7 linked regions of the Homo sapiens genome follow. The gene in region 5 interacts genetically with the main gene of each other region. Each region holds a gene or a part of one and is shown on either strand. Other genes may lie near its edges. The genes, in order: PTEN, CIP2A, LLGL1, TYMS, NF1, SYT12 and DMAC1.

Region 1 (4,273 bases), on a different chromosome or scaffold from region 5:
CTTTGGTTTAATGCACAACTTTGAAAATAACTCATTAAAACACACATCAAGATGCTACTAACAAATTCATTAATATCCAAGATTCATTACTGTATGTCAAAGGTCATCCAGGATTAACATTTTCATTACAATGAACTGTGAAATTCCAATGAAAAATGTTTGCCTGAATTAAATTATTTAATCTCTCAAATTGGAAGTCTAGCACTCTTGAAAATCAAATTCACACACACACAGACACACACACACACACTTACAAACTGCACATTAGGACATGAGGGCAATTTAATGGAAAAAGAAAATAGAAACTGAAAGGGCATTTGTAAAATGTAGGATATCATTTGGACAACTGGATAGAGTAGGCAGAAAATCCTAAAGGTGTACATAAAAAAATAGCCAGTAAATGATAGGCTACAGAAAACCACACTGAAACATTTGATGAATTTCACTGCAGTAAACAGACTTGGCAAACTGAAACACTAGAACCATGACTACAAGCCTCACTTCATTCCACACAAATAAAATCTCTAACCATTATAAGCACAGATGAGAATCCTCATGCAACAGAGGAAATATAAATTATTTTTAATTTTAAAAAATAAAAAATATAAATTCTTGTTAAACACTTGATTTAAAAATATGCAGCTTTATTTTTAAATGTAGTTATGCTCAAAGATGGCAGTTTACTTATATGTAAAAATGTTTTAAAAATATCAATATATTGGTTTATAAGTTCTATACTGCCCTCAGCTAAATATTTTTCACCAAAATTCTCAAATAACTATCAAAAAGAGTTGCATGTTTTTATAAGCCCACTATAATTACTAAACGCGGTAATTTTCAGAGCTAAAGGTGAATCATTAATGAAATATTTTTTGATGTGATAAAAGTCACATGAGCATTTGAATTTAAAGACAACTGATAAGCCAACAGCAGCCTTTTTTTGGCAGGTGTTAAATTAATTTGCTCTAAATTGAGCAACTGTTTGGGAACTACAAAAACTGAAAAGTTCAAACTATAAGGAAGTAGAAAGGTGATGAAGTTTACTAATACAGTGTTTCACACATTCTATTTAACACAATTCCAAATGCAAATGTTTAAGATGATTTTTGAAGAGAAACATCTACAATGTTAAGCTTGTCTATGCTAAACAAATGTAACTTTAATTTACATGTATCATCCTAATGTCAACAATATTTAGACATTCATGATTAAGCCACTGAATTCGAAAGGATTCTCAATAACTACATGTAATCTGCATCTGTGGCATTAGAAAGTAATCAAATCACTGTCCGTTTTCTGATGCAATGGAACATCCTACAAATTCATGACAGATATACTAAGCTAAAAAGCTTTGAGATCAGGTACAGTATAAATTTCATTTTTAAAGAATATACATGGATATACAGAAGAAAACATGATTGTATAGTCACTAACATATTAACGATGGCTATGTCTCCAGGTGATAGGATTATGAGTGATTATTTTATTGTTGTTGTGATGGGGAAGTAGTCTCAAAATACCTAGCTTAACAACCAGAGTACTACCACCAAAGCAAACTATTTTGTCCTTTCCTGTCTTCACATTACAAACTTTTTAAAGCTACCAACCAATATGAATTTGTCTGACTGGCTACCCACATTCTGATATACATATTAGAAGGAAGATCTTTTGGAAGATGGAAAAACAGCAAGATTATGGTCATAAAAGAATAATATGCTCTCAAAAATAAGCAACAATCATTAGGCTTTCTATAGCCACATACAATTAATTCTATAAGAAAGTTGGCTCCAACATTTCATCTTTAAAAGACTTTTTCCATTATCCTGTTTCCTGGTTTTCAGGTACTGTCCTTACAACAGTTTGGACTGAATATTCTTGTTTCCATTCACAAACATTTCTTTCTGAACTAGCAACAGCACTAATCAATAGCTACACTTAAGCCATTTAAGACTAAGCTTTAGATGTGTGTCTAATTATCTGGCAAAAATAAAAGAACCAAAGAGTTTCATGTTAGCAGCAAATTAACTAGATTTAAGGGTCTTGATTTTTTTCATAAGCCTTTGGAAGCCTGCATATTAAACACTGGTGAGTTTTAAATTCTCAATGGAAATGGTGATGGCATTTACTGAACCAAGCCAGCTCATATTACAACGTACAAAGGACATGATATAAAAACAAAACTAGCACATTTCTATTTTTCAAACATCACCAAAATGTCTTCTTATAAATTAGAATACTTTTAGACTCCAGTATAGTTTTCAACCATACGTATACCCAAGATACCGAAAAATAAAATGTGTGTACACATACACTTCATATTTTACATTATTGCACATTTTTTCATTTACTTTTTAAAAAATTACATGGAGAAAATGTAAACTTGAAATAATAAGTCCCACTGTAACATTGTCTACTTTATTTTTTTAACACTTGTACAAACTACACTTTCTTATTACCTTACTATGCTTTGTTGAAAGGATATGCTTTAGTCTTCAAGCTTTTAAGAATATTAGAAACAACATGATTAAATTCAAGTACAAAAAGTCCTTTAGACTATTCCGAAATATCAATTTTTATATGGCACAAGTCATGATGAGTAAATGAAGCTTTCCATATGCTGATGGCAGAGTACAGAATAATAGACAAAAGCCACAAAATTGAAATCTAAAGTATCAAATCCATTCTGGGGAATTATCTTCAAACATCTGTCATAATAAAAATATGCACAATTTTCTAAGAATCTTGGACTTTTTCAGGACTAGAACGCTATTTAATGTGCTTATACAATTTATGAAGTGATGACTAAAGCCCTAAAAATAAGTGTTTTTCCTTAATTAAACATGAGTAGACAGATACTCTACTCTCAGGCCATGTTTTTTTTTTTTTTTTTTTTTAAACAGTAGGCTTTGAAGGACAGCAGGAAAAAAAAAAACTGAAAACTTTGTATTCACATTTGGCTGCCCATTAATTAAAACTTCAATGGACTTAAGCAATTTGAATTATAAACTCTCATTTAATAAAACACCCACACAATGACAAGAATGAGACTTTAATCAGTTTTAAGTGGAGTTTATAACACTAAGAGATAAAGGGTTGTTAACAAACACAATAACAAATGGACATCTGATTGGGATGAGGCATTATCCTGTACACATCATATTGGTATTTTTGTGTATCCTCAGTGCATAGCATTTACACACAGAGCCACTGCTGCACAGCACAAGAGTATCTGAAGAGGCTGAATCAGAGTAAGGCTGTTTAACAGACTGAAATTTTTTAGTATATATATTCTATATGAAAACAGGTTGAACTTTTGAACTGGCAGGTAGAAGGCAACTCTGCCAAATACTACAGTTAAAGCCCCCACTTTAGTGCACAGTTCCACCCCTTCCATCTGCATGCATGACACATTAACAGTATTTAAAGGTAAACGAGGCACTTTGTGGCAACCACAGCCATCGTTATGAACATATTGCACAAAATTTCTAGAACTAAACATTAAACTTGTACCCTACTTTTATTTTTTAAAGCTGAAACATTTGATGCTGCCGGTAAACTCCACTTAAGTTTATAACCTGTGCCACAGCAAAGAATGGTGATGCTATTTATTCAACTACCCTTTTAAAAGTATGGCAAACATGTTCAAGAGGAGCTACAAAGGACTTGGGATGGTACAGGGCCCAACTGTAAGCTTTCTTAAAAGTGATGCCTTCAAGTAACTTCAGACATGTAAGCTGCTGCACATCCAAAAAGTCTAAGAAAATATTCCAGAAACTCAGAGATTACCTACAGAATGCATTTCAGGCTAATTATGAATACTGCCATAAATAAAGTTTTAATTAGGACTCGAAAACCTTTCAGTCATAGCAATTCTTGTCAAATTCTATGGGGATGGTAACTGAAATAAAGTAAGGAGAGTATGTATAATATATATTTATATATATAATATATATAATGCCATTTTTCCATTTCCAATGACTACACCATAAAATGTAAGCAAGGCTTCTCAAAAACATTGAAACATTCAAAATCAAAACCCTCATTCAGACCTTCACATTCCAAAGGAAAAATAATAACAGTGCAAAAGCCCATTATAATGTCATTATTTATGACCTGGCCCTCCATGTTACATATTGGAACAATAAAGTTACGTTTTAATATGCGGTGCCCGAAATTGTAACAAAGAACAATATTTATAACTATCTTCAAAACATGAAGTTGATTTTCATTTTAGGTAACAATTTTCAGCTTTTATGAAAGACAAGGTGGCATA
Region 2 (4,273 bases), on a different chromosome or scaffold from region 5:
TCATATGAAATAAATTCTGTATGAATTATCTGCAAAACCTTGTAAGAAAATGATATATTTTGTGCTTTTATTTTAACTTATAGCAGTAGACATTGAAACCAGAGATTGTCTTCAGAATACATATAATCTGAATAGTGTGCTGGCGGGAGTGGTTTGTCGGAGCAGCCACACTGATTCGGTGTTTTTGCAGGTATACAGACCCACACAGTGTATTCCCCTTTCCTTACTGTCAGATCAAAATTGATAGTTTCTGTCATAAACTGCTGACTTACAGTGTATATATGCTATATAATAAATACTACATGATTAGGCACAGTTCATCTCATTAAAAGCTGGTTGCACACATACAATTTAAATGTTTCTAGAGAAGAGAAGCTTATCCATTTCTATCACCACTATTGAAGAAAAACAAATCTACATTATAACTGCTTTGACTTATAAACACAGATGTCTGTGTTTTGAGACATAAGCTATTTATATTAAAATTGTAACGTGAGTTGGCATCTAGTCTCAATCTGTGGAGGAAACGTTCTACAAAAATTAAAGCTGTAGATAGAGTCTATTTAATATAGATTCAAAGCTCTTCATATTTCATTGACTCTAAAATGTCATCAATTGTAAGAAAGAAAAACATCACAAATTAAATTGACATGCAGTTTTAGAGGTGATAAAATGTGAAGAAGGGTATCTTCTAATTGATGGACTACATGTGTGTTTCAAACTGCATTCAAGTTTAAGATGACTAAGTGAACAAGGTTGATAACCATGCTCTGAGACAGAATACGTAGAAATGTGTGAATTGAGAGAAGAGCCCTAAGGTTCTTACATTACTTTACATGTGTTTTTTAAAAAAATTGTTTTAGGAAATGGAAAAGGACATGCTCAGAATGTGCCTGAGAGTCCATTATTTTAAGCAGGCAATGTTTTTATATCTTTATATTTATAACTATTTTCTTATTCTCAGTGCATTCAACTTCTACAGAAGTTAACATATAATGTCAAAATTTTCTATTCTGGTGCCAATATAGATGAATTAATTACGTTCCTGATAGATCACATGTGAGTATGCAATCAAACATAAAACCAAATAGTTTATTTGTTTATTTTTAAATTACAACCATGTGGTAGATTAATTTTTCTTAGATAACATTTTCTAACATATAAACTGAGTGAGACTCCGATTCTTATTTGTTCTGCCCAGATGATTTTAAGGATCAAAAGTTGTAAAAGTATGTGACCTCATTCATTGGTGAAAAAATGTAAAAAGGAAAAAAAAATTGTAAAGCAACTTTAATTTTCATAAGAAAAATTTATGGACTGAATTGATTTGGCCAGAAAAAAATTACTGAAATTGAAAATTGTGTAGTTATTCTTGTAGGAAAATATACTGATGAAACAGCACATGGTCCACGCTGACAGTTACTTCCATGTTTTCATGATGGAATTGAATAGGGTAATTTGGTTTTAAAATGAGATAAATGATCAATACTATTCAAAGCTTCCCTGGCTTCTTATGTTAATTAGTTTTTTTTTTTGCGTGTAAAAGGGAATTGAAATGTATAAACTTAACTATATCATTTTGACTTAGAATAATGTTAATGCTTTTTTTCTTTTACTATTTTTTCTTTAAACAAAACACCAATGTAAAACAACAGTCAATCTTCTGAAGATGAGTTAAAAATGCCTTGTCTAGGATTATTGGCAAATCTTTGTCGGCACAATCTTTCTGTTCAAACGCACATAAAGACATTGGTAAGAAGTTTATTTCTTTTTAATGTTTCTTGTTTTATGGTAGATTCTCTGCTTAAAGAAAATTGTATTTATCTTTTTCTTTAAAACAAATTTGAACAAGGATTCTGTGTCTTATCGGATGACCCATCAAAATTAAGAGTCAGATTGACATACAAATAACTTGAAGCACTTCAGCCTTCGTGTATGTTGTATTGAAGACTGTGTGTTAAGGGTTAATGCAAACACTTATTTCTAAAAGTTTTCCTCAGCATGGCATCCCATTATTTATTACATTGAGTAGTACAAGAATTACTAAATTATTTTGTGCTCTTAGAAGGGAGGCACATCACTGGCAGTCCCATTTATCTCAGTCTTGTGTTTCCACAAAATCAATGGCAACCCCACCAGAAAGATTCATGAGTTAAGTGCTCAGTATGAACCAACAGTACTTGTGATAAATGAAGACACACAAATGAATTTAACTGAATCACTTTTAGAAGTATATTAAATCAGCTGGGCATGGTGGCTCACACCTGTAATCCCAGCACTTTGGAGGCCAAGGCAGGCAGATCACAAGGTCAGGAGATGGAGACCATCTCGGCCAACATGGTGAACCCTGTCTCTACCAAAATACAAAAAATTAGCCAGGCGTGGTGGCACACGCCTGTAGTCCCAGCTACTTGGGAAGCTGAGGCAGGGGAATTGCTTGAACCCGGGAGGTGGAGGTTGGAGTGAGCTGAGATCGCGCCACTGCCCTCCAGCCTGGCAACAGAGTAAGACTCCATCCTTAAAAAAAAAAACAAAGTATATTAAATCAAGCAAGTCACTGATTCTTTAAGGTGCTTGGTGAACAATTTCCCTGCTGTGCTATTCAGCATTACCCGTTCGATTTTAAATTTAATATCTCACTTGTTCAAGTGCTACATTTTTCTGCCCTGGTCTTACTTTGGAGGTGGAGTAACTGTGTGTGTGTGTGTGTGTGTGTGTGTGTGTGTGTGTTTCAATTTCTGAATTGAAAAAAAAGTTCATATGTTCATATTTAGGAAACACTTAAATATAAGGAAGAATAAACATTTGCTCATAGTTTCATGTGTAGAAACTGCTCTTCACCAAGATTGTGGCTATCTATATGACTGTCAGCAATATACGAAACTACCCATCTTGCTCACACATGCAGTGATCTCTTAAATCTAAATGCTAATCAGCAAATATGGCAAAGTTAATTGCTGCTCCACGGTGTGTAACGTAAAACAAATTCTTAAATTTGCTGAATTTTTTTTGCTTCCACCACAATTATGAGAGTTCCTCATTACAGTTCTTTTGTTAACACAAATGCTAACAAATGCTACAGTTCTTTTGTTAACACAAATCCTGCAGTATTTAAGGTAGCTCTTTTGTTTCCACTCTGCATGTGTCCCTTTATTAGAATTGACACCCTGATTTACCATCATTGAATTATTTATTCTAAGGTGACAAAACTTTGGAAATATTTATCTCCAACTCGTTTGCACGCATTTACCAAATTATTTTTTTCTGTAGGTACTCTCTTTATAACAATTTTTGAATTTAAATTTATCTCTGATCTAAATTTCTCCTGTAGAACATTTATCTTTTAAATGCAACAATCATTTAATAGAGTTGATAATGATGTTTAATAAAAGTTTGCCCACTCTGTGCAAGATATACTTTTTAAACCAAAACATAAAATTTATAATTCTAATTTATTTTTTAACTTTTTTTTCCTCAGAGTAATGTGAAATCTTTTTATCGAACTCTTATCACCTTGTTGGCCCATAGTAGTTTAACTGTGGTTGTGTTTGCACTTTCAATATTATCCAGTTTGACATTAAATGAAGAGGTGGGGGAAAAGGTAAATACAATTTTTCAAATTTATTCTGAAGTTTATAGTCTGATATTTTAAAAGTCATTGAGACTTTTTTATTTTTACCTTTTAGGATGGTGTCAACTTAATTTTTTGTCTAATATGCTTTTTCTAATTTGTCCTTAAGCTATTCCATGCTCGAAACATTCATCAGACTTTTCAACTAATATTTAATATTCTCATAAACGGTGATGGCACTCTAACTAGAAAGTATTCAGTTGACCTACTGATGGATCTCCTTAAGAATCCTAAAATTGCTGATTATCTCACCAGGTATGACTCACTTCAGTCAATTTTAGAACTTTTTTATTTTTAAACCAAGATGTGTTGGTTATAAACAGAATTGTCTTCTTAAAATATAATAAACTTGGATTCTACTGATTCACAGTAGACTAAAATGTTTTGATGTGCTTTACTCACACTCTTTTTTCTTTCCTGAACTGAAATGGAAAGTATAACAGGTCATTGTCTATGTGTGTATTTCAGTCTTTGCTTTAGATCAATAGGGTTGTGCCATTCTCCAAAATATAGACATCTTGGCTAATTTATTTTAAAACCAGTTTTAAAACGTAAGTAGCATTACGATTATTTGAAAGAGTATTTTTATTATAGGAACAATAAAAATAAATATTTCTACATAAATTATAAATAAATGAAACA
Region 3 (4,273 bases), about 13 Mb from region 5:
TGAAATGGGCAGGCTGGAGTCTCTCCTCCCTCATGATGGCAGTTGTTGGCTGCCTGCTTTGGAGGGAGGTGGGTTTTTTTTGTTTTGTTTTGTTTTTTTGAGATGGAGTCTTGCTCTTTGTTGCCCAGGCTGGAGTGCAGTCGCACAGTTTTGGCTCACTGCAACCTTTGCCTCCCGGGTTCAAGCAGTTCTCTGCCTCAGCCTCCCAAATAGCTGGGATTACAGGTGCCTGCCAGCATGCCCGGCTAATTTTTGCGTTTTTAGTAGAGACGAGGTTTCACCATCTTGGCCAGGCTGGTCCTCAACTCCTGACCTTGTGATCTACCTGCCTCGGCCTCCCAAAGTGCTGGGATTACAGGAGCGAGCCACCGTGCCCAGAGGAGGTGGGTTTTCTTACCCATGGCTGAAGTTTGGCCTGAAGCTGTGGGAAAAGGCAGCCTGGACTCTTCTGCCCCCTGGCTTTCTTGTCCAGGCCTGGCCTTGCACCTCTGGCCTGCCTGATCCCATCCGGCAAGGCGCAGCTCCCAGAACCCATAGACACACGGAGCTGAAGTGGAGCGGAGCCCCATCCTCTCACCAGGCTGAGGCCAAGCCTGCTGGGTGTGTTTATTCTCACTTGATCTGCAACAGTCCTGTAAAGTGGGAGTCACTGGCCCAATTTACGGGAAGTGAAGGTCCTATAGCAGCACCTGACTTGCAGGAGTGAGTGGAGCCTGCACACTGATCTTGGGGATACTGTAGGGGTGCAGAGTGGGAGCTTTAGGGAGGGGGCCTCCGTTCTTCAGGGAGGACTCCTGGATGGTCAGGCCCATGCCGGGGCCCACTGGAATAGTCCGGGTCAAGGAGGAGCCTTGGGTGTCTTCCTCACTGTGGTTTGCTGGTCTATGCCTATTTCCACCTTGACCTGCCACCCTCAGCTATGGTGCACCTGGCGTGGAGTTCACAGGCCTGCACCGGGATGCAGCCACTGTCACACAGATGCACTTCTTGACCGGCCAGGTGAGCCTCTGCTTCCCACTAGCCAGCTCCCTGTGGCCCCCATATCTACTCATCCCCCTAGGCCAGCCTAGTTTTCATCTCTGCTCACACACCAGGGCCGCCTCCTGTCCCTGCTTGATGACAGCAGTCTGCATCTCTGGGAGATTGTCCACCATAATGGCTGTGCCCACCTGGAAGAAGCACTCAGTTTCCAGCTGCCCAGCCGGCCCGGCTTTGATGGTGCCAGGTACTGGAGAACTTGGCTGGGGCCAGCCACCGGGCAGGGAGGATCTGGGGGAGGCTGTGGGAACCTGCTGTGCAAAGGCAGCATGGAGATGGGCAGCGGTTCAGGGCGGGATGCCTTGAGCTGGGCCTGGGTCCCAGGCTGCAGCTGTTGGACCCTGCTTTACTGAGGTATACTCTGAACTTTTCAGGTTAAATGGGAGGTTTGGGTTGAGTCCGACGTGAGCAGGTAATTAACATTGTGAGCAGCAGGAGGTACATGCATTATATGCCAAACTTCTAGGACCTGAGGCCTGGCACTACACTTACTGCAATGATGGGGGTGTCTAGGGGTTTGGGGCAGGGCCTAAGCCAGTTAGTAACAGGAAGGGTCCCCTGGCCTCTTCAGTTGTGGGTGGGAGACAGGCCTTTCTGTGCATAGGCAGGGTTGAGGGCAAGGAGGGTCCCATGGGCTGTGCTTGGTAAGGCGCTGGCAGCATGCCCCAGCTGAGTGAGAGTGTGGGGCATCTCTCTCCCCAGCCCTGCCTGAAATAGCTGGAAAAGGGGAGTACCAACCCAGGGATGGATTCCTGATGCCTCCCAGCTTCTGCAGATGGGGGTATCTGGGGCCCTCCTGCGAAGTCAGGAGATGTCTGAGCGCTGGCAGCGGGATTCCTAGGAGGGGCTCAGCGGGGAGCTCCTGGTCCTGGCTTGGGCAGTGCCCTGGTTCCTGCTGTCCTCTCCTGGTGGGTGGGAGGAGCTGGGAGCCCAGTCTGCAAGACCTAGGGACCCTATTTTTATCCATCTCCCTGCTGACATCCTGATGAATAATTGAGCGGGCTGATGATGATGCATGTCTTCCTGGGGTGGCTCTGTAAGTAGGCCCTGGTGAGTGCTGTGGGGCCAGTGATGAGTTATCAGCAGTGGCCCAGCCCCTCACACCCCACCTGAGCAGGTGGATGGGCTTGTACCCTCACTCCCTTCCCCTTGTTCCCTGCAGTGCTCCGCTCAGCCTTACCCGAGTCACAGTGGTCCTGCTGGTGGCTGCCAGCGACATAGCAGCCCTGGGCACTGAGGGCAGCAGTGTCTTCTTCCTGGATGTTACCACCCTGACCCTGCTCGAGGGGCAGACGCTTGCCCCAGGCGAGGTTCTGCGCAGGTAAGAGGCCGGTGGGCTTCCCAGCACCCACTGTGTGCCCGGGAAGTTCTGCTGGCTCACCTGCCTTCCTCCACAGCGTGCCAGACGACTACCGCTGTGGGAAGGCACTGGGCCCCGTGGAGTCACTCCAGGGACACCTGCGGGACCCCACAAAGATTCTCATTGGCTACAGCCGGGGCCTGCTGGTCATCTGGAACCAGGCCTCGCAGTGTGTGGACCACATCTTCCTGGGGAACCAGGTATGTAGGTGAGGCCTGTGTCCCCTCAGCCTGGGCCCCTTGTGCATGCCCACCATGGCTCATGCCTGCCTGCCTGCCTGCCCCTGCCTGCCCGCAGCAGCTGGAGAGCCTATGCTGGGGGCGTGATAGCAGCACTGTGGTCAGCTCACACAGCGATGGCAGCTATGCTGTCTGGTCTGTGGATGCCGGCAGCTTCCCAACGCTGCAGCCCACGGTAGCCACCACACCTTACGGTGAGTGCTGGGGACACCTTAGCCAGAGGGTGGTGATGGGAGGGGGCACCACTGAGCCAAGCCAAACTGGCTGAGGAGGGACTTCCCCGAGGGGGTGGTCTGGGGGCAGTGTGTCTCCCGCCGACTTCCCGGGGAGGCAGGAGGCAGCTGTAAGGTAGAGAGCAGTGGAGGGCAGAGCAGGAATGGCAGAATTGCTAAGAACCACCAGTGAGTCTGGTCTGACGCTGTCCCACCCCTCAGGCCCCTTTCCCTGCAAGGCCATTAACAAGATTCTGTGGCGGAACTGTGAATCTGGGTAGGTCGAGGGAGTGGGTGTCCGATGTGAGTTGGGTCTGGCTAGGGGGCTGGAAGGGTGGGCTCTCCCTAGGTTGTGCAGTATGTGCTCTGGACCCAAGTGGTTCATGGCTCGCACACCTCCCTCTGCACATAGGGGCCACTTTATCATCTTCAGCGGTGGCATGCCCCGTGCCAGCTATGGTGACCGCCACTGTGTAAGTGTGCTTCGAGCCGAGACATTGGTGACGCTGGACTTCACTTCCCGCATCATCGACTTCTTCACAGTGCACAGCACACGGCCCGAGGATGGTGCGTGCCCTGCCGTACCCTACCCTTTCCCAGCCCCACCTGGTGCCCTCTGCCACCTATGGCTGTGCTCACCCCATACTCCCTCCGTCCCACAGAATTTGATGACCCCCAGGCCCTGGCTGTGCTGCTGGAAGAGGAGCTGGTGGTGCTGGACCTGCAGACTCCTGGCTGGCCAGCTGTGCCTGCCCCATACCTGGCCCCGCTGCACTCCTCTGCAATCACTTGCTCGGCCCACGTGGCCAGTGTCCCCGCCAAGCTGTGGGCCCGCATTGTGAGCGCTGGCGAGCAGCAGAGCCCCCAGCCTGTCTCCAGTGCCTTGGTGTGTGCGGCGATCAGGGGGGTCTTACAGGGTGGAGTCTTGAGGAGGGGGAGAGTTTCAGTTCTAAGCCCGGAGGTCAGAATGTGCCATACTCGGGGTGAGAGGGAGAAGATGTTCGTCCTAACCTTGTGCATACATCTCTGCCACCCCCTCCCAGAGCTGGCCCATCACTGGGGGCCGAAACCTGGCCCAGGAGCCGTCACAGCGAGGGCTGCTGCTGACGGGGTAGGTGTGCGTGCTTATGTGGGTGAGTGGGCCCCTTGCTGTTGGGGGAGAGCCCATCCTGGGCCTGGTGGGTGCAGAGGTGCCAGGAGACTCAGGCCTGGCCCCTGGTGGGACCAGGTAGTTCCTCCTTGCCCAAGGTGGTTTGGAATGAAACCTCCCTGGACCTTGGTTCAAGGTGCTGCCCTGATCTGCCTTTTGGCCTGGAACTGAGCTCTACCAAACCCCAGGGCTCCACCCGCCCAGCCTGCCTGCCCTGGGACTGGAAAATCTGGGCTGGCCCACGCTGAGCTGCCCAGGGAAGGTGCCAGAGAGC
Region 4 (3,986 bases), on a different chromosome or scaffold from region 5:
TTGCTTCAGCCGTAAATGGACACCTGCAGAAACCTTGCACCGATGGATAGTCTCCCTCAGCTCCGTGCCATCGCTGCAGAGGCTGTTATGGACATCACTGCAGCCCAGTGGCTCTCTCTCCTGGTCTCCACCATATGAGTTGGCTTCTGTTTCTCTCCTGTTTTACTTTGCCTTTAGCTGTGGTCTTTCAAACCACCATCCCTCCTTATCTTCCTCTGCTGGTTCCTCAGATCTTCCTCTGATGGCGCTGCCTCCATGCCATGCCCTCTGCCAGTTCTATGTGGTGAACAGTGAGCTGTCCTGCCAGCTGTACCAGAGATCGGGAGACATGGGCCTCGGTGTGCCTTTCAACATCGCCAGCTACGCCCTGCTCACGTACATGATTGCGCACATCACGGGCCTGAAGGTGGGCTGTCTCGGGAAGGGTGACTTGCCAGCCTACCACACTGAGCTCTTCAGTTCTTTAATATGGGAAAACAAATTGCAGAGTTTAGTCTCTGATTAGCTTTTAAATTTGATATGTGTAAGTAAGAAATGAACCAGCTTTTACTTTGAAACCTTCCTCTTCTGGAAGGTTTTCTGGCCCTGTGGTATACGCACTAACAGATCTATACAGGTTGTTTGTGATACAGCTTCTATGGATTTTCTCAAAAGCTATGCTGAGGTTGGGTATGGTGGCTCATGCCTGTAATCCCAGCACTTTGGGAGACTGAGACAGGAGCAATTGCTTGAGGTCTGGAGTTCAATACCAGCCTGGGCAACATAACAAGATGCTGTTGCTACAAAAAAATGGAAAAGCTACACTAAATTATTTTTTTAAAAAAAGCCTTGCGGTGTCTGCATATTCTAATGTTTTTAAATGATGTTTTAAAGAATTGAAACTAACATACTGTTCTGCTTTCTCCCCCGGGTTTATAGCCAGGTGACTTTATACACACTTTGGGAGATGCACATATTTACCTGAATCACATCGAGCCACTGAAAATTCAGGTAAGAATTAGATGTTATACTTTTGGGTTTGGTACCTTCTCTTGATAAAAGGTTGACTGTGGAACAGGCATCTGCTCAATGCTGTGTCCAAGATAAAGATGACTGCTCCAAATGTGGGGCTTCAGTTTAGGGAGAAGTGGTGGGCAGGTGGGCAGGACAAGGCAGGCATCTGCCTCAGCAACCATGGGCACTTAACATGTCAGGTGCTGTGAGGTACTAAGCACCAGTACCAGAGAGGGAAGAGCCACATTCAAGCCAGGGGATTGTCCAAAAGGGGGCATTTTAACTCATTTTAACTTGAAGGAGAATTGAAGTGCAAATGTTTTTCCTTTTCTTTTTTTTTTGAGATGGAGTCTTTCTCTGTCGGCCAGGCTGGAGTGTGCCGTGGTGCGATCTCAGCTCACTGCAACCTCCACCTCCCGGGTTCAAGCAATTCTTCTGCCTCAGCCTCCCAGGTAGCTGGGATTACAGGCACATGCCACCACACCCAGCTAATTTTTGTATTATTAGTAGAGATGGGGTTTCATCATGTTGGCCAGGCTAGTCTCAAACTCCTGACTTCAAGTGATCCACCTGCCTCAGCCTCCGAAAATTCTGGAATTACAGGCATAAGCCACCACCCTGGCCATAAATATTTTTTGTTAATTTTACATTAAGTACAATATTTAGGTCCAAACTTCAAAAGTCTGTTGAAATCCCTAAGTTATAGCAGCCAACAATTGATATGAAATGGCAATAAAAATGTAAGTTCATCTGCTTCATGAGCCTTAAGGAAAAAAACTCAGAACCAGACACTTTTTAGCCCCTTCCAGGTTAGATCCAGGTTTTAAAAGTTACTCCTTTGAGGGAGTTTGGCTGCTTTTGAGTGGAGGTGACTTCAGGCTTATTCTCTCTGGCTCTCTGCTCTGGTCGTTTTTAGACATAGTAATAGGTTGTGACCTGTCTTCACATCCTAATTGCCACTGTCTGTTCATCCCAGGAATCCTGGCTTTCATCCCTTTCTGTTCACTGTCCATGCATGTCATCTTTCCTTCTTTCTGCCAGGGACAGATGGGTTAGGGATTGTGGAATTCAAGTAAACGTAGAGCTACTATGAGTTACAGATTGACTGTGTTCCTGTCTTTAATAAATTTGCCAAGAGTGGTTATAAGAACTTACACCTGATGAGGCACCAGGCTCCTGATGCTGTGTAATGTCACAAAATACCCCTCACTCTCGATCTGTGCAAGAGAACAGCTGGTTGCGCTCCAATCATGTTACATAACCTACGGCAAGGTATCGACAGGATCATACTCCTGTAAAATAGAACTTTGTTGATCACATCCTGTGTACTTGTTTCACGGACATGAGGAGCAATTACAACAGGTCGTACAATTATGGCAAAATAATGGCCTTATTTTGTTTTTAGCTTCAGCGAGAACCCAGACCTTTCCCAAAGCTCAGGATTCTTCGAAAAGTTGAGAAAATTGATGACTTCAAAGCTGAAGACTTTCAGATTGAAGGGTACAATCCGCATCCAACTATTAAAATGGAAATGGCTGTTTAGGGTGCTTTCAAAGGAGCTCGAAGGATATTGTCAGTCTTTAGGGGTTGGGCTGGATGCCGAGGTAAAAGTTCTTTTTGCTCTAAAAGAAAAAGGAACTAGGTCAAAAATCTGTCCGTGACCTATCAGTTATTAATTTTTAAGGATGTTGCCACTGGCAAATGTAACTGTGCCAGTTCTTTCCATAATAAAAGGCTTTGAGTTAACTCACTGAGGGTATCTGACAATGCTGAGGTTATGAACAAAGTGAGGAGAATGAAATGTATGTGCTCTTAGCAAAAACATGTATGTGCATTTCAATCCCACGTACTTATAAAGAAGGTTGGTGAATTTCACAAGCTATTTTTGGAATATTTTTAGAATATTTTAAGAATTTCACAAGCTATTCCCTCAAATCTGAGGGAGCTGAGTAACACCATCGATCATGATGTAGAGTGTGGTTATGAACTTTAAAGTTATAGTTGTTTTATATGTTGCTATAATAAAGAAGTGTTCTGCATTCGTCCACGCTTTGTTCATTCTGTACTGCCACTTATCTGCTCAGTTCCTTCCTAAAATAGATTAAAGAACTCTCCTTAAGTAAACATGTGCTGTATTCTGGTTTGGATGCTACTTAAAAGAGTATATTTTAGAAATAATAGTGAATATATTTTGCCCTATTTTTCTCATTTTAACTGCATCTTATCCTCAAAATATAATGACCATTTAGGATAGAGTTTTTTTTTTTTTTTTTTAAACTTTTATAACCTTAAAGGGTTATTTTAAAATAATCTATGGACTACCATTTTGCCCTCATTAGCTTCAGCATGGTGTGACTTCTCTAATAATATGCTTAGATTAAGCAAGGAAAAGATGCAAAACCACTTCGGGGTTAATCAGTGAAATATTTTTCCCTTCGTTGCATACCAGATACCCCCGGTGTTGCACGACTATTTTTATTCTGCTAATTTATGACAAGTGTTAAACAGAACAAGGAATTATTCCAACAAGTTATGCAACATGTTGCTTATTTTCAAATTACAGTTTAATGTCTAGGTGCCAGCCCTTGATATAGCTATTTTTGTAAGAACATCCTCCTGGACTTTGGGTTAGTTAAATCTAAACTTATTTAAGGATTAAGTAGGATAACGTGCATTGATTTGCTAAAAGAATCAAGTAATAATTACTTAGCTGATTCCTGAGGGTGGTATGACTTCTAGCTGAACTCATCTTGATCGGTAGGATTTTTTAAATCCATTTTTGTAAAACTATTTCCAAGAAATTTTAAGCCCTTTCACTTCAGAAAGAAAAAAGTTGTTGGGGCTGAGCACTTAATTTTCTTGAGCAGGAAGGAGTTTCTTCCAAACTTCACCATCTGGATACTGGTGTTTCTTTACAGATTCCTCCTTCATTTCTGTTGAGTAGCCGGGATCCTATCAAAGACCAAAAAAATGAGTCCTGTTAACAACCACCT
Region 5 (3,871 bases):
GTTCACACAGTAGCTTTCTTTAAAGGCTCACTTAATTTTGTGTTCAATAGTATGACAAGATAAGTAATCCTTTCAATTTGAGAGAAATTATTTTCAGTTGACTGCAGAAAACCACAGAACATTTTAGCTACTACAAATTAACTGGTGCAAGACAGTCAAGCATATAAATAAGAAGATGGTGGAAGATGAAATCACTTTTATTTACAATACAAAATAAATGACTGTCAATTTACATCCCGGTGACTTTTAACATGCTTATTAACTCTGATGCCTAGCATCCAAAGGGCACTAGAATCAATATTAGCTCCCGCTACTGGGCTGTTTTGAAGATGAAAATACCGAGGCAGATGCCCCATTTGCAATGCTCCATTTGCAAATATTCTTTTTTTGAGATGGAGTCTTACTCTGTCGCCCAGGCTGGAGTGCAGTGGCACCACCTTGGCTCACTGCAACCTCCTGGGTTCAAGAGATCTTCCCACCTCAGCCTCCCAGGTCGCTGGAGTTACAAACATGTGCCACCCTGGCTAATTTTTGTATTTTTAGTAGAGACAGGGTGTCACCATGTTGGCCAGGCTGGTCTCGAACTCCTAACCTCAAGTGATCCTCCCAACTCGGCCTCCCAGAGTGCTGGAATTACAAACATGCGCCATTGCACCCGGCCAATTTGCAAATATTCTTAACATATAAATAGCCAACAACTAGATATCGCTGACCACCACTGTCCCAAAACAGTTTTAGAAAAACGGCAATGAGAATTAGGACAGAGGGGTTCTAGTCCCAAAACAGATGTACAAGCATGGGCAAGTTACTTAACTTCTTAGTTCCTTTCTAATTTGCAAAATGGAGGTCTGATTAATAAACTCCATAAGACCTCTTACCTCTAAAATTTTGCTTCTATATTTTTCAGACCCATATCTGTTCCAGGTTCACACTACATCTGGTAGACTGAACTAATAATGTTTAGACCAAGTATCTTTTTACACTTAAAACCATAATCCTGTTCTTTGTACCCACAGTTCAGTTAATTTCACTTCAAGCAAATCTCACTGTATATACACATTCTTTTAAAAACATTCCCCTCTTTTCTCCTAGACCCTTCCCATTTTTATCCAAAGACAAAAGGGACGTAATTTCATACTATTTTATTCTCTCCTCTATTCTCTATGAACTAAAATCCAACCCCAATTAGATCTCCATTTTACAAATTAGAAAGGAACTAAGAAGTAATTTGCCCATGTTCATATATATATACACACACACATGCACACGTGCACACACACACACACACCCCATTAGCACCCCTCCTAACATTTATTAACCTTAATTGGAGTTGGATTTTACATATTTTATGTGTGTACACACACACACACACACACACACACTTTATATATATATATACACATACATTACATATATATGTGTGTATGTAATATATGTATACACACTTTTTTTTGGAGACAGGGTCTTGCTCTGTTGCCCAAGCTGGAGTGCAGTGGCGTGATCTCAGCTCACTGCAACCTCTGCCTCCCAGGCTCAAGCAATCCTCCTACCTCACCTCCCGAGTAGCTGGGATTGTAGGTGCATGCCACCATGCCTAGCTAATTTTTGCCTTTTTTGTAGAGATGGGGTTTTGCAAGTTGCCCAGGCTGTTCTCTAACTCCTGAGCTCAACTGATCCACCTGTCTTGGCCTCCCAAAGTGCTGGGACTACAGGTATGAGCCACCACTCCTGGCCACTAATGGTATATTTTAAAGTAAGATTAGACAGAATAAAAAAACTAGTAAAATTAAGTACCCAAAAGTTTCCTTTAGACTCTCCAACTTCCTTATCTACTATGAATTATACGTATTTTTCATTAAGTGGCATTATTAAGTAAAACTAAGATTACTTTTAGATTATTTCTTCACGTGTGAAATGGGGGGCAGAGAATGCTAACCTTTACCTTAAGGTTATGAAAATTAAAAATAAATGTATAGTGTTTAGCATACGGCCTGGCATGGTAGCTATTAATATTATTACCATGTATTGTTTATGCTCATTCTGTAAGGATGATCATGTATTATTTATCCTTATTCTGTAATTCTACTAGTATTAGGCCAGTACTGTTTTTTTTTTGTTTTTTTTTTTTTGCTATTTTTATGTAAAAAATATGCATTCAAGTTTACATAGTTCTTTATGAGCTGGTAAGGAAATATACTCACAATAAGTTACATTATACAAATTCCTACTTAAGTTATGGACTTCTTGTGATTTTAAAAGAATAGCAACAAGAAAAGATGGAAGAGTACTAAATTTGAGTAATCTAGGAACCTCAAGGCAAAGTTTGCTTACCTTGTCATTGAATATACGGAGACTATCTAAAGTATGCAGGTTTTGTTCAAGAAGTGCGGTACCTGCTGAATACAAGTTGACCTCATCAAGCTGCAGCACAGCCACAGCTACCCAAAAGAGGGCTTTGTGCAGAGGCGAGTCCTGGCAAAGAAGATATGTTTGAGGCTAGTAAGATGAATCATGACATAGTCTCTTTCAAAACACACTGCAGTTAAAAATAAAGCAGCTTATCTTCCTAAATTACCCATGTTTTCTCTTTTGGGGAAGATAAAGATATGAGTAAGCTCTTCACTTTTCCATATGTATAACTAAAGACACTGTTAGCTGGACTGAGAACGTTACTTAGCACCTCCTTTGACTTCTCCCTGTTCTTTGATTTCTAAATCCAGTCACCAAGGTTTGTTGATTCTTCTAGAGTAGTCTCTTTTGTATCTTTTGTCATTTCTTTCTTATTGCTAATGACATTACCACATGCCAACCTTCTTTATTATAAAGGTGGATTCTTTTTACTTCAGTTTCTCCCTACTCCAATCCACTGTGCACACTACCACCAGGAGCTAAGTCCTGCTTTCATCGTATGACTTGTCTGCTTAAAAACTGTACATTTCCAAACTCTTTTGAACAATGCTGAATGTGAGATGAGGTCTATCCAGTCCTCACAACTTTCCCTCTCTCGATTCCTTTGAAAAGCTTCTCCATTACAACTAGAATGTTCTACCCACCTTCCCTCCATTGTCCTGGCATTCTTGTGCAGCTCTCTCCCTTTCTCTCTACCTACATTAACTCCTATGTTTCCCTTTAACTTTATTTTAAACTGTCTTTTCAACTTCTTGTCACTCTTAACCAGTATGGTAATCTCTTGCTGCTCTGAATTAAAAGTATTTATTACTGGCAATCTTTACTTAGCACTGTGATATTAGGGAAAATACATGGACTTTAGAGTCAAATAGTATCACATTAGAATCATGGTTCTTTTATTAGGTATGTGACTTTGGGCAAGTTATTTAGCCCTTCTGAGCTCATTTTCACTTAGAAGATGGGGACCAGAGAACCATTTTGTATAATACAAAATTAGAATGCTTGTAGACAAACCAGGAATATAACAGGTATTATTTCTCTGTTATTTCTCCCAAGTCTGGCATACCTTTGTACTCAAATCACAGAATTAAACCACTTTAGAACTGGATGGTAATACCATGCCATTATCGAATCTTTTTCATTTTATTAATACAAAAACATGATTTCCAGATATCTTAAATATAAAAATGGGATAAGGTCAGACCATCCTAAAACAGTGGCCACTTCATTTTACTCCTTTTAAATATAATCTTCATTTGGCACCCAAACTCTTATGACGATCAAGTATACTTCTCCCAGCTTTAATTTCTCCATAGTAATAATCACTAACATACTACGTATTTTGTTTACTTCATTATCCATTCACTCCCCAACCTCCACACCCACCCCAGAAAGTAAGCTCCATGAAGGCAGTGAGTTTTATGGGCTTTGTTAGTACTCTATCTCTAGCGCCTAAAACAGT
Region 6 (4,273 bases), on a different chromosome or scaffold from region 5:
GCCTGGAATGCCCAGCGGGCCAGCACGCGGGGACCACCCAGCCGCAAAGGCAGTCTCAGCATTGAGGACACCTTTGAGAGCATCAGTGAACTGGGGCCTCTGGAGCTGATGGGCCGGGAGTTGGACCTGGCCCCCTATGGGACCCTCCGGAAGTCCCAGTCGGCCGACTCCCTGAACTCCATCTCCTCCGTGAGCAACACCTTTGGGCAGGACTTCACACTGGGCCAGGTGGAGGTGAGCATGGAGTACGACACTGCCTCCCACACGCTGAACGTGGCGGTGATGCAGGGCAAGGACCTCCTGGAGCGGGAGGAGGCCAGCTTCGAGTCCTGCTTCATGCGCGTCAGCCTGCTGCCGGACGAGCAGATCGTGGGCATTTCTCGGGTAAGTGGGGCTCAGGGCGGGGCAGAAGGGTGCTCTGGGCTCACTAGATGCCTCCCAGGCAGGCATGGCGGTGGGGCCCGGCAGGATCCCAGAAAGGCAGTAGAGTGCAAGTATGGATGCTGATCCCAGAGCTGAAGCTTCAGACTGTAGAGGGAGCTCTGTACAGAGCTGGGAGGTGGGGGGCTCCACCTGAAGGCTCCCATTGTGTGGAGTTCTTAGCGGTCCCACCAGGTGAATACAGAATGTGGCAACTGTCGTTGTCCACATCTGCCCTGTGTCAACATGGGGTCCCGGCAGAAAAGGGATGACATGCTTAAGAAGGCTAATTTGGGGAGGGCTTAATAACAGGACTGGGGCTGGTTGTGGTGGCTCATGCCTCTAATCTCAGCACTTTGGGAGGCCGAGGCGGGCAGATCATGAGGTCAGGAGATCGAGACCATCCTGCCTAACACGGTGAAACCCCATCTCTACTAAAATACAAAAAATTAGCCGGGCGTGGTGGCGGGCACCTGTAGTCCCAGCTACTCGGGAGGCTGAGGCAGGAGAATGGCGTGAACCTGGGAGGCAGAGCTTGCAGTGAGCCGAGATCGTGCCACTGCACTCCAGCCTGGGCGACAGAGGGAGACTCTGTCTCAAAATAAATAAATAAATAAAAATAAAACAGGACTGTCCAGGTACAGTGATTCATGCCTGTAATCCCAGCACTTTGGGAGGCCAAGGTGGGAGGATTGCTTGAGCCTAACCAGGAGTTCAAGGCCAGCCTAGGCAACATGGCAAAACTCCTTCTCTACCAAAAAAAATAAAATAAAATAAAATAAATTAGCTGGCTGTGGTAGTGCCAGCTAATTTATAGTCCCAGCTACTTGGGAGGCTGAGATGGGAGGATCACTTGAGCCCAGGAGGTTGAGGCTGCAATGAGCCACGATTGCACCACTGCACTCCAGCCTGGGTGACAGAATGAGACCCTATCTCAAAAAATAAAAATAGGGCCAGGTGCAGTGGCTCACACCTGTAATCCCAGCCCTTTGGAGGCTGAGGCAGGTGGATCACCTGAGGTCAGATGTTTGAGACCAGCCTGGCCAATATGGTGAAACCCCGTCTCTACTAAAAATACAAAAATTAGCAGGGCATGTGGTGCACACCTGTAATCCCAGCTATTGAGGTGGCTGAGGCAGGAGAATTGCATGAACTCAGGAGGCGGAGGTTGCAATGAGCCGAGATCATGCCACTGCACTCCAGCCTGGGCGACAGAGTGAGACTCCGTCTCAAAAATAATAAATAAATAAATAAATTTTAAAAATGAAAATAATAAGACCATTTAGAGTGGTGCGGATGGGGTGTGGGGCAGCCTCAGGGATGGCATGGTACCCTGGAAGGGCGTAACAGGAGGGGCTGTCCCACTCTAGATCTGAAGGGGTGAGGGGAAGGTGAGGTTACTGGGCCCAAAAGGATAGAGGGCCACCTTGTGTGGAGAGGGCTACCTTGGTGGAAGCTCTGCCCTTTGGCCAAGGGACATGGTCATCCCGCAACAATACTGCAGAGAGGGACTTCCCTCCCCCTCCAGTTTCCTTCTGGTGACCTCCACTGGCTGACCCAACCAGAAGCCAAAGGCCAAGGGAACCTGTTGACACAGCCCATGGAGGTCAACTCTCAGGGCCAGAGCAGAGGGGGGAAGGGTGGAGAATAAAGCGTGAGGGGCAGGGAAGGTGCCCAGTCCCTTAGGCTACCCTCCACACATCGCTGTAACTCACAGAACCAAGCCAACAGAGCCACATCTGGGCTGAAGGGTGGGGATAGCCTGTGAGCAGAGTGCGAGGAGGGCGTGTTTAGGGCATCAAGTTGGGGTGGCCCAGCTTCTGAGAGGCAGTATAGTGGGCGATTAGGAGCAGGACCCTGGAGCCTGACTGCCTGGGTTCAAATCCTTGTTCCACCTCTTCCTAGCAGTATGATCTTGGTTAAGTCAGTTTAGTACCCCATGACTCCGTTTCCCCATCTGTCAAATGGGCATCATGGTTATTGAGGAAGAGATGGGTTAATGTATGTGAAGTTCTTAGCCCAGCCTGGGTCAGTGCCTAGCAGGTTGGCTCTCAGGACCGTGCAGAGCTCCTGTCGTGCCCAGCCATGTTGCCTGTGGTTTGGGGACGCATTCCTTGAGGAGAGACATTGGCAGACAGCAGCCGCCACAGCCTGATGTGTGCTGAGAACCTGGTTCACAGAGCCCAGTGCATCCATGATTCTCTCATTAGCCCCTGACGCCAACAGGACAGATTGTTAGGGCATCTTACAGATGAGGAAACCGAGGCTCGGGAAAGTGCTTTGCCCAAGACAACGCCAGTAAGGAAGCAGGAGGTCCAGGACTCAAACCCAGGGTTCCATCCTCCTCCACCCATGTGCACATAAAGCACACGCTCAGAGAATGGCTGGTTGGGGAGCCCAGGCCCCCATGAGCAGGGGACAGCTGAGAGGCTAATTTAGCCGAAGGAGGGAGAGGCAGAGCCAGATCATGAAGAGCCTGAATGCCGAGGTCAGGAGGTCAGGAGGCCAGGTGGGCTTTATCACTTGGGGGCAAGGAGCCCTTCAAGAGCAGGGGATTGTGTAGGGAACGTGAGCACTGTGCGAGGAGCCTTCCCACACCCAGGCAGTGACAGAAGAGTGTGGTCATGGTGGCCGGTGGCGCTGGGGGATTTATTCCAGGGAAGGCAAGCTTCCCAGCTTAACAGCCTGGGCAATCCCACCAGGGGGTGCTGCCCCCAGGCTAGGCAGCCCCCCAGCCTCAGGCAGGGTCCAGGGATGAGAGCGCCTTTCTTTAAATATCACCAGGCAGTGACTAAAGCATCCCCCTTATTCCCCAGAGACAGAGCCCGCAATGCACCTTCCCAGGGGGCCTGCCCACAACTTCCTGGGAGGAGGTCAGTGGTGCCCACCAGGCAGGACTGGGCTTGGAAACCGAGTTGGCCCAACCTCGCCTAGTCCTCCCTTCCATCCACCCATCCAGCCTACGGTGTTCAAACAGTCCTGGGCCAGGCTCTGCAGGAACCTGGGACGTCAGTGGCTCGTGACTCCACAGGCAACTGTCCCACTCCACTGCTTGCCTGGCCTAGGGCTAGACTCGAACAGATGCAAGAAAGATGGAGACCAGCTCGTCCAGGGCATCTTGAGGGTTCTGGGGTGCCACGGGCACTGAGGACGGAAATTAGTTGGGATCAGATTGTGGGAGCTTAAAACGCCAGGCCACTAGATTGGCCGCCACTGAGGAGAGGACAGGAGGCTTTTAAACCTTCAAGGCTGAGCCACCAAAGGAAAGATTGGCATTGAGGGTGTCAAGACAACAGAGCCAGGACTCTAGCCTGGGCCTCTGGACTCCCTGTCCAGTGCTGTCTCCCTGCTGTGGCCTCTCAGGCCCCTAGCGCCCTCCATGGCCTTTTCTCCTGCAGATCCAGAGAAATGCCTACTCCATCTTCTTTGATGAGAAGTTCTCCATCCCCCTGGATCCCACAGCCCTGGAGGAGAAGAGCCTGCGGTTTTCTGTATTTGGCATCGATGAGGATGAGCGCAACGTCAGCACGGGGGTGGTGGAGCTGAAGCTTTCTGTGCTTGACCTCCCGCTGCAGCCCTTCAGTGGCTGGCTCTATTTACAGGACCAGAACAAGGTAAGTGACTTGCCTGCTCGTCCACCTCGGAAGAGCGTGCACACACATACACTTCCAGGAAGGGACTCCATCATCCTCATCATCCTCTGCAATAGCCTGAGCCCCATCATCATTAGGAGAGCAGAGAAGAAGACCTGAGCCACATCCGAGGAAACTGCTTGCTGCAGGCAAATTTCAAAAACATCCCGACCACTGTTTACAGCTCGTCTGCTGCTTTGCCACCAAAGCTTCAGAGGTTC
Region 7 (4,982 bases), on a different chromosome or scaffold from region 5:
TGACAATGTACCTAGTTACTCAAGAGCTTTAATGGAAATGTACAAAGAGATTAGCATTTTCATAACTGCTAACACAACATCCATTCTGCAGCCTATAGATAAAGAAGTAATTCTGACTTTCAAGTTTTATTATATAAGAGATACATTTTGTAAGGCTCTTGCAGCCTTACAATCAGAGATAATGATTTCTCTGATGAATCTGGTTAAAGTAAATTGAAAACCTTCTGGGAAAGATTCACCATTCTGATGCCATTAAGAATATCTGTGACTCATGGGAGGAGATCAAAATATCCCTAACTGGATATTGGAAGAAATTGATTCCAATCTTTATGAACAACTAAGAAGGGTTCAAGATTTCAGATGAGGGAAGTAACAGCAGATGTGGTGGAAATAGCAAGAGAACTAGAATTAGAAGTGGAGCCTGATGATGTGACTGAATTGCCACAATCTCATGATAAAACTTGAACAGATGAGGGGTTACTTCCTATGGATGAAGAAAGTGGTTTTTTGAGACGGAATCTACTCCTGGTGAAGATGCTATGAACATTGTCAAAATGTTGGATAAAGGGCTCCAATTTTGAAAGACGTTATATAGTGGTTATTAAAATGCTATAAAACGGCATTGCATGTTGCAAAAAAATCTTTCGTAAAAGGAAGAGTCAATTCTTGCAGAAAATTTCATTATTGTCTTATTTTAAGAAATTGGCACAGTTACCCCAACCTTCAGCAACCACTACCTTGATCAGTCAGCAGCCATCACCATCAAGGCCAGACCCTCCACCAGCAAAAAGATTAGAAGTGGCCAGGTGCGGTGGCTCATGCCTGTAATCCCAGCACTTTGAGAGGCCAAGGCAGGTGGATTACCTGAGGTCAGGAGTTTGAGAATAGCCTAGCCAACATGGTGAAACCCCGTCTCTACTAAAAATACAAAAAAATTAGCCAGGCGTGGTGGCAGGCATCTGTAATCCAAGCTACTCGAGAGGCTGAGGCAGGAGAATCACTTGAACCCGGGAGGCGGAAGTTGCAGTGAGCCGAGATTGTGCCATTGCACTGGGCAGTCTGGGCAACAAGAGCAAAACTCCACCTCAAAAAAAAAAAAAAAAAAAAGATTAGGATTTACTGAAGGCTAAGGTAATCGTTACCATTTTTTGGGCAAGATGTTTTTTAAATTAAGATATATATACTGTTTTTTAGACACAATGCTACTGCACATTTAATAGACTACAGTATAAACAACTTTTATATGCACGGAGAAACCAAAAAAAAATTGCATGGCTTGCTTTATCGAGATATTTGCTGTATTGTGTTGGTCTAGAACCAAACCTGCAATCGCTATGGTATGTCTGTATCTAGCACATGATTATGCACATATAAAACCCAACTCCTTGATTCACAGGCCTCTGGATAGGAGATATGACATGCCCAAGGTCTCGCAGTTCATGTGAGGCAGGAAACTTAAGAGAGCCAGACTTCTTTAAGGAGACTGAAAGGTGATTCATTTAGTGAGTAGCGATTACAGAATTTCTAAAACAGTGGGGGCGGGGGGGGCGGCGGGGAGGAGGGCTGGAATTGTCCTCCAGCGCATACAAGGTTGTTGCTGCCAGAGAAATCCAGCAGGAAAGAGCAGCATTCTTTCACCTTTTCCGCCTCTGAAGCGGAGGAGAACTTCATTTCCCAGCAGCCCTTAAGATTCCTCCGCGCACTGCGCTAGCGTCCCGGCATTCTGCTTTCCGGCGCTCTGCCTTCCGGTGCGTCGTTTACGCCAGTTTGAACCAAAGACGCCCAAGGTTGAGGCCGAGTTCCAGAGCATGGGGTCTCGGTTGTCCCAGCCTTTTGAGTCCTATATCACTGCGCCTCCCGGTACCGCCGCCGCGCCCGCCAAACCTGCGCCCCCAGCTACACCCGGAGCGCCGACCTCCCCAGCAGAACACCGCCTGTTGAAGACCTGCTGGAGCTGTCGCGTGCTTTCTGGGTTGGGGCTGATGGGGGCGGGCGGGTACGTGTACTGGGTGGCACGGAAGCCCATGAAGATGGGATACCCCCCGAGTCCATGGACCATTACGCAGATGGTCATCGGCCTCAGTGAGAATCAAGGCACAGCACTTGGGCGGGTTGGGTATCTGCGGGGTAGAGGAAGGAAACGGAGCAGCCACGTGGGCGGGGAGGCGGGGAGGCGGGGTGCTGCCGCTGGTCAGGTGGTGGGGGCACCTCAAACAAGGTGGGAGAGGAAGTTGTTGGAACGCCTTTCTTTTTTTTTTTTTAATTTTAAGTTAGTATTTCTTGAGAACCCTTATTAGACTCAGCCCTTTTAATTCTCAGAATAGCTGTTAGAAGTAGGTATGATTATAGTATTTACTGTGGAGCAAACCGAGGCAACGAGGAGTATTGTGTTCATGGTCAGGAAATGACAGTCACTTGATCCCAGGTATATCAGATCTCAAAGCCCATACTTTTTCTCCAGGTCCTGGAGAAAGCCTGAGCGAGGGCCCTTGACCTTAATTTAAGAAATTTGCCTTGAATCCCAGATCTTTAGACGTGGATTCTAAGCTCACCTACTTGGTACACCTGGGTAATGTGGCCCACAGCCCCGTTCTGTGATCGTCAAGATGTCATCCAATCAAACGTCATGATTTTTTTAGCTTTCAAACCGATTGTCAGTGAATAGAATTTTAGGTTTCTAACTGTCTTACCTTCTTGATCCTGTATAGGTAAATTCTCCTACAGGATATTCTTTTTTTTCCTGATTTTTTTTTCTTTTTCTGTGCTTCACTTGCCTTATAAGAAAGATACAATGGTAATATATCCTCCAGAAGTGTTGTGAGGGTTAAATAAGATGGCGTATATGTGAAACACTTGGTAAATTTAAATGCAGCATAAAGGTAAGGTATTGTTGTTTTTTTTCTAGGCATTGCCACCTGGGGTATCGTTGTCATGGCAGACCCCAAAGGGAAGGCCTACCGCGTTGTTTGAAAGTACCACCAGTGAATCTGTCTTCTGTCTCTGTCCCTTTCCCCGTGACACACACAGCAGGCATGGAATTTAATGGGTGTTCTGGACAGACACTTGTACATGGACAGACATCACTACTGTGGATACTACAAGACTGAGAAGAAAATCGTATGTTGTCATTCTCTGGCTATGGAGTGTTTGTGGCCTTCACAGATTTCACAGGAACCAATAAATCCCTCAGAGAAGTAAACAGGTTCTTTGTCTTATCTGGGGAAGGAAAGTATAACTTATATTTAAATATAATTGCTTAATTAAGCATTATATATAAACATAATAGTATGTCTTATATAATTGCATGTCATATTATATATAATAAACATAAATATGTTTAGTTATATAGTTAGTATAATTTTTAAAACTTTTAAATACAGCATATGGTAAACCAACGGGAAAATTAGCTATTTTACTTCATTATTTTAAAGAGTTCTTTTTATTTCTTTCATAATTGGATCAACAACTGTTAACCTAACCCTGGGTGGGCATCATGCAATATATAGAAGTACGTGAAATTTTCTGTGTATGAATTGCTGATACTTTGCAAGGCATTTTCAAATCCATCACCTTATGAGAGCTTCACAGCTAGTCTGAGGTAGTTACTTCATTGGAGGTAAAACTTAAAACACAAGAAAGAGCCCACATGATTTGCCTAGGGTCATTCAGTAAGTCCGTGATGGAGCTAGAACTTGTTCTTGTCAGTTTTTTGTTCTAGTCTTCCCTTTCATGGAGGCAAGAATAACCATTATGAAACAGTTAGATAATCATAAAAATCAGCATACAATAAAAGACTTAAATGTCACAAGAAAAATTCAAAACCTTTAGCTAAAAAAAAAAAAGATCTTTTGATTCTTTTTCCACAAGCACTAGATATGTTTCTGTGATGATTTTGAGATAAGTACTCAAAATTACATAGTTCATTTCTAAGAGAAGGCCATGTTTTCTACCTATTGGGTTTTTCTACCCTGAGATACTATGGCTTCTTTGTAAAGGTATATAAAGTGTTTTTCAAAGCGGAAAGATACTGTTAAATTCAGCTGCTAATCATAGTGTATTTGTTTGGAATGACATGTTGAGCAGGTAGTACCTTTACGGCTGTTGCTTTTTGCAGCATTATGTGGAAGTGCCTAAGTCTATTTAGCCTCACAGATGACTTTAGAATCTTGTATTTTCTACATCAGAGTTCATAGCGGGGATGGTGCTACATATATCTATGCAACTGAAAAAGAAAACATTTCAAACCTAAAGTACGCAACAAGATATTATTTATATGAAATCCATAGCTCAGTTATGCTATGTTCATGAATAGAGAAGTTTTAAGTTGGAAGGGACCATGGATGACCCAAAGCAGATACATATGGTCATTCATATACCTAAAATACCTACAAAGACAAGTTGTTCCCTGGTTTAAAAGGCAGTCTGTTCTATTGATGGACTGCTTTAGTCCCTGAACATTTTCTTTGGTTAAACCAAAAACACATAAACCTAACTTGGTCTTGGCTTGATCTACTGGGTAAATAATAACTCTTAAATATATATACAGTTGACCCTTGGACAACACAGGAGTTAAGAGCGCTGAACATTTGCTCAGTGGAGAATCTGCATATAACCTGACTCCTCAAAAACTTAATTAGTAGTTAGTTTACAATTGACTGGAAGCCTTATTGATAACATAAAGCAGTTGATTAACACATTTTTTGTGTTGTATGTATTATATTCCGTATTCTTACAAGAAGGTAAGCTAGAGAAAAAAAAAATGTTATTAAGGAAGTAATATATTCACTATTCGTTAGGTAGAAGTGAATCATCCTAAAGGTCTTCATCCTCATCTTCACGCTGAGTAGTCTGAGGAGCAAGAGGAGTTGGTCTTTCTGTCCCAGTGGCAGAGGTGGAAGAAAATCCACAGATACGTGGACCTGCGCAGTTCAAACCTGTGTTGTTTGGGTCAACTGTATTGTAATAGCATTTTAATGTTTTTC

The links.
Region 1: changes in NF1 (region 5) and PTEN together harm fitness less than expected from each alone (positive genetic interaction), as found in Homo sapiens cells (one large-scale study listed by BioGRID).
Region 2: changes in NF1 (region 5) and CIP2A together harm fitness more than expected from each alone (negative genetic interaction), as found in Homo sapiens cells (one large-scale study listed by BioGRID).
Region 3: changes in NF1 (region 5) and LLGL1 together harm fitness more than expected from each alone (negative genetic interaction), as found in Homo sapiens cells (one large-scale study listed by BioGRID).
Region 4: changes in NF1 (region 5) and TYMS together harm fitness more than expected from each alone (negative genetic interaction), as found in Homo sapiens cells (one large-scale study listed by BioGRID).
Region 6: changes in NF1 (region 5) and SYT12 together harm fitness more than expected from each alone (negative genetic interaction), as found in Homo sapiens cells (one large-scale study listed by BioGRID).
Region 7: changes in NF1 (region 5) and DMAC1 together harm fitness more than expected from each alone (negative genetic interaction), as found in Homo sapiens cells (one large-scale study listed by BioGRID).

Annotation. Positions count from the first base shown.
Region 1 is NC_000010.11:87,967,536-87,971,808, reverse strand, and holds part of PTEN (phosphatidylinositol 3,4,5-trisphosphate 3-phosphatase and dual-specificity protein phosphatase PTEN), read right to left. Parts: 3' UTR 1-4,273. UniProt on the Homo sapiens protein: Dual-specificity protein phosphatase, dephosphorylating tyrosine-, serine- and threonine-phosphorylated proteins.
Region 2 is NC_000003.12:108,578,894-108,583,166, reverse strand, and holds part of CIP2A (protein CIP2A), read left to right. Parts: intron 1-83; coding exon 84-190; intron 191-964; coding exon 965-1,059; intron 1,060-1,655; coding exon 1,656-1,752; intron 1,753-3,478; coding exon 3,479-3,601; intron 3,602-3,740; coding exon 3,741-3,886; intron 3,887-4,273.
Region 3 is NC_000017.11:18,231,578-18,235,850, forward strand, and holds part of LLGL1 (lethal(2) giant larvae protein homolog 1), read left to right. Parts: intron 1-917; coding exon 918-999; intron 1,000-1,094; coding exon 1,095-1,225; intron 1,226-2,200; coding exon 2,201-2,359; intron 2,360-2,435; coding exon 2,436-2,598; intron 2,599-2,695; coding exon 2,696-2,831; intron 2,832-3,071; coding exon 3,072-3,126; intron 3,127-3,261; coding exon 3,262-3,416; intron 3,417-3,511; coding exon 3,512-3,735; intron 3,736-3,892; coding exon 3,893-3,960; intron 3,961-4,273. UniProt on the Homo sapiens protein: Cortical cytoskeleton protein found in a complex involved in maintaining cell polarity and epithelial integrity. Involved in the regulation of mitotic spindle orientation, proliferation, differentiation and tissue organization of neuroepithelial cells.
Region 4 is NC_000018.10:670,462-674,447, forward strand, and holds the end of TYMS (thymidylate synthase), read left to right. Parts: exon of another isoform or gene 1-230; coding exon 231-406; exon of another isoform or gene 407-918; coding exon 919-990; exon of another isoform or gene 991-2,398; coding exon 2,399-2,536; 3' UTR 2,537-3,117; downstream 3,118-3,986. UniProt on the Homo sapiens protein: Catalyzes the reductive methylation of 2'-deoxyuridine 5'-monophosphate (dUMP) to thymidine 5'-monophosphate (dTMP), using the cosubstrate, 5,10- methylenetetrahydrofolate (CH2H4folate) as a 1-carbon donor and reductant and contributes to the de novo mitochondrial thymidylate biosynthesis pathway.
Region 5 is NC_000017.11:31,339,106-31,342,976, reverse strand, and holds part of NF1 (neurofibromin), read right to left. Parts: intron 2,473-3,871; coding exon 2,332-2,472; intron 1-2,331. UniProt on the Homo sapiens protein: Stimulates the GTPase activity of Ras. NF1 shows greater affinity for Ras GAP, but lower specific activity. May be a regulator of Ras activity.
Region 6 is NC_000011.10:67,039,820-67,044,092, forward strand, and holds part of SYT12 (synaptotagmin-12), read left to right. Parts: coding exon 1-384; intron 385-3,818; coding exon 3,819-4,034; intron 4,035-4,273. UniProt on the Homo sapiens protein: Synaptic vesicle phosphoprotein that enhances spontaneous neurotransmitter release but does not effect induced neurotransmitter release. Unlike other synaptotagmins, it does not bind Ca(2+) or phospholipids.
Region 7 is NC_000009.12:7,796,561-7,801,542, reverse strand, and holds the start of DMAC1 (distal membrane-arm assembly complex protein 1), read left to right. Parts: upstream 1-1,764; 5' UTR 1,765-1,808; coding exon 1,809-2,082; coding exon of another isoform or gene 2,083-2,094; intron 2,095-2,905; coding exon 2,906-2,970; coding exon of another isoform or gene 2,971-3,107; 3' UTR 3,108-4,982. UniProt on the Homo sapiens protein: Required for the assembly of the mitochondrial NADH:ubiquinone oxidoreductase complex (complex I). Involved in the assembly of the distal region of complex I.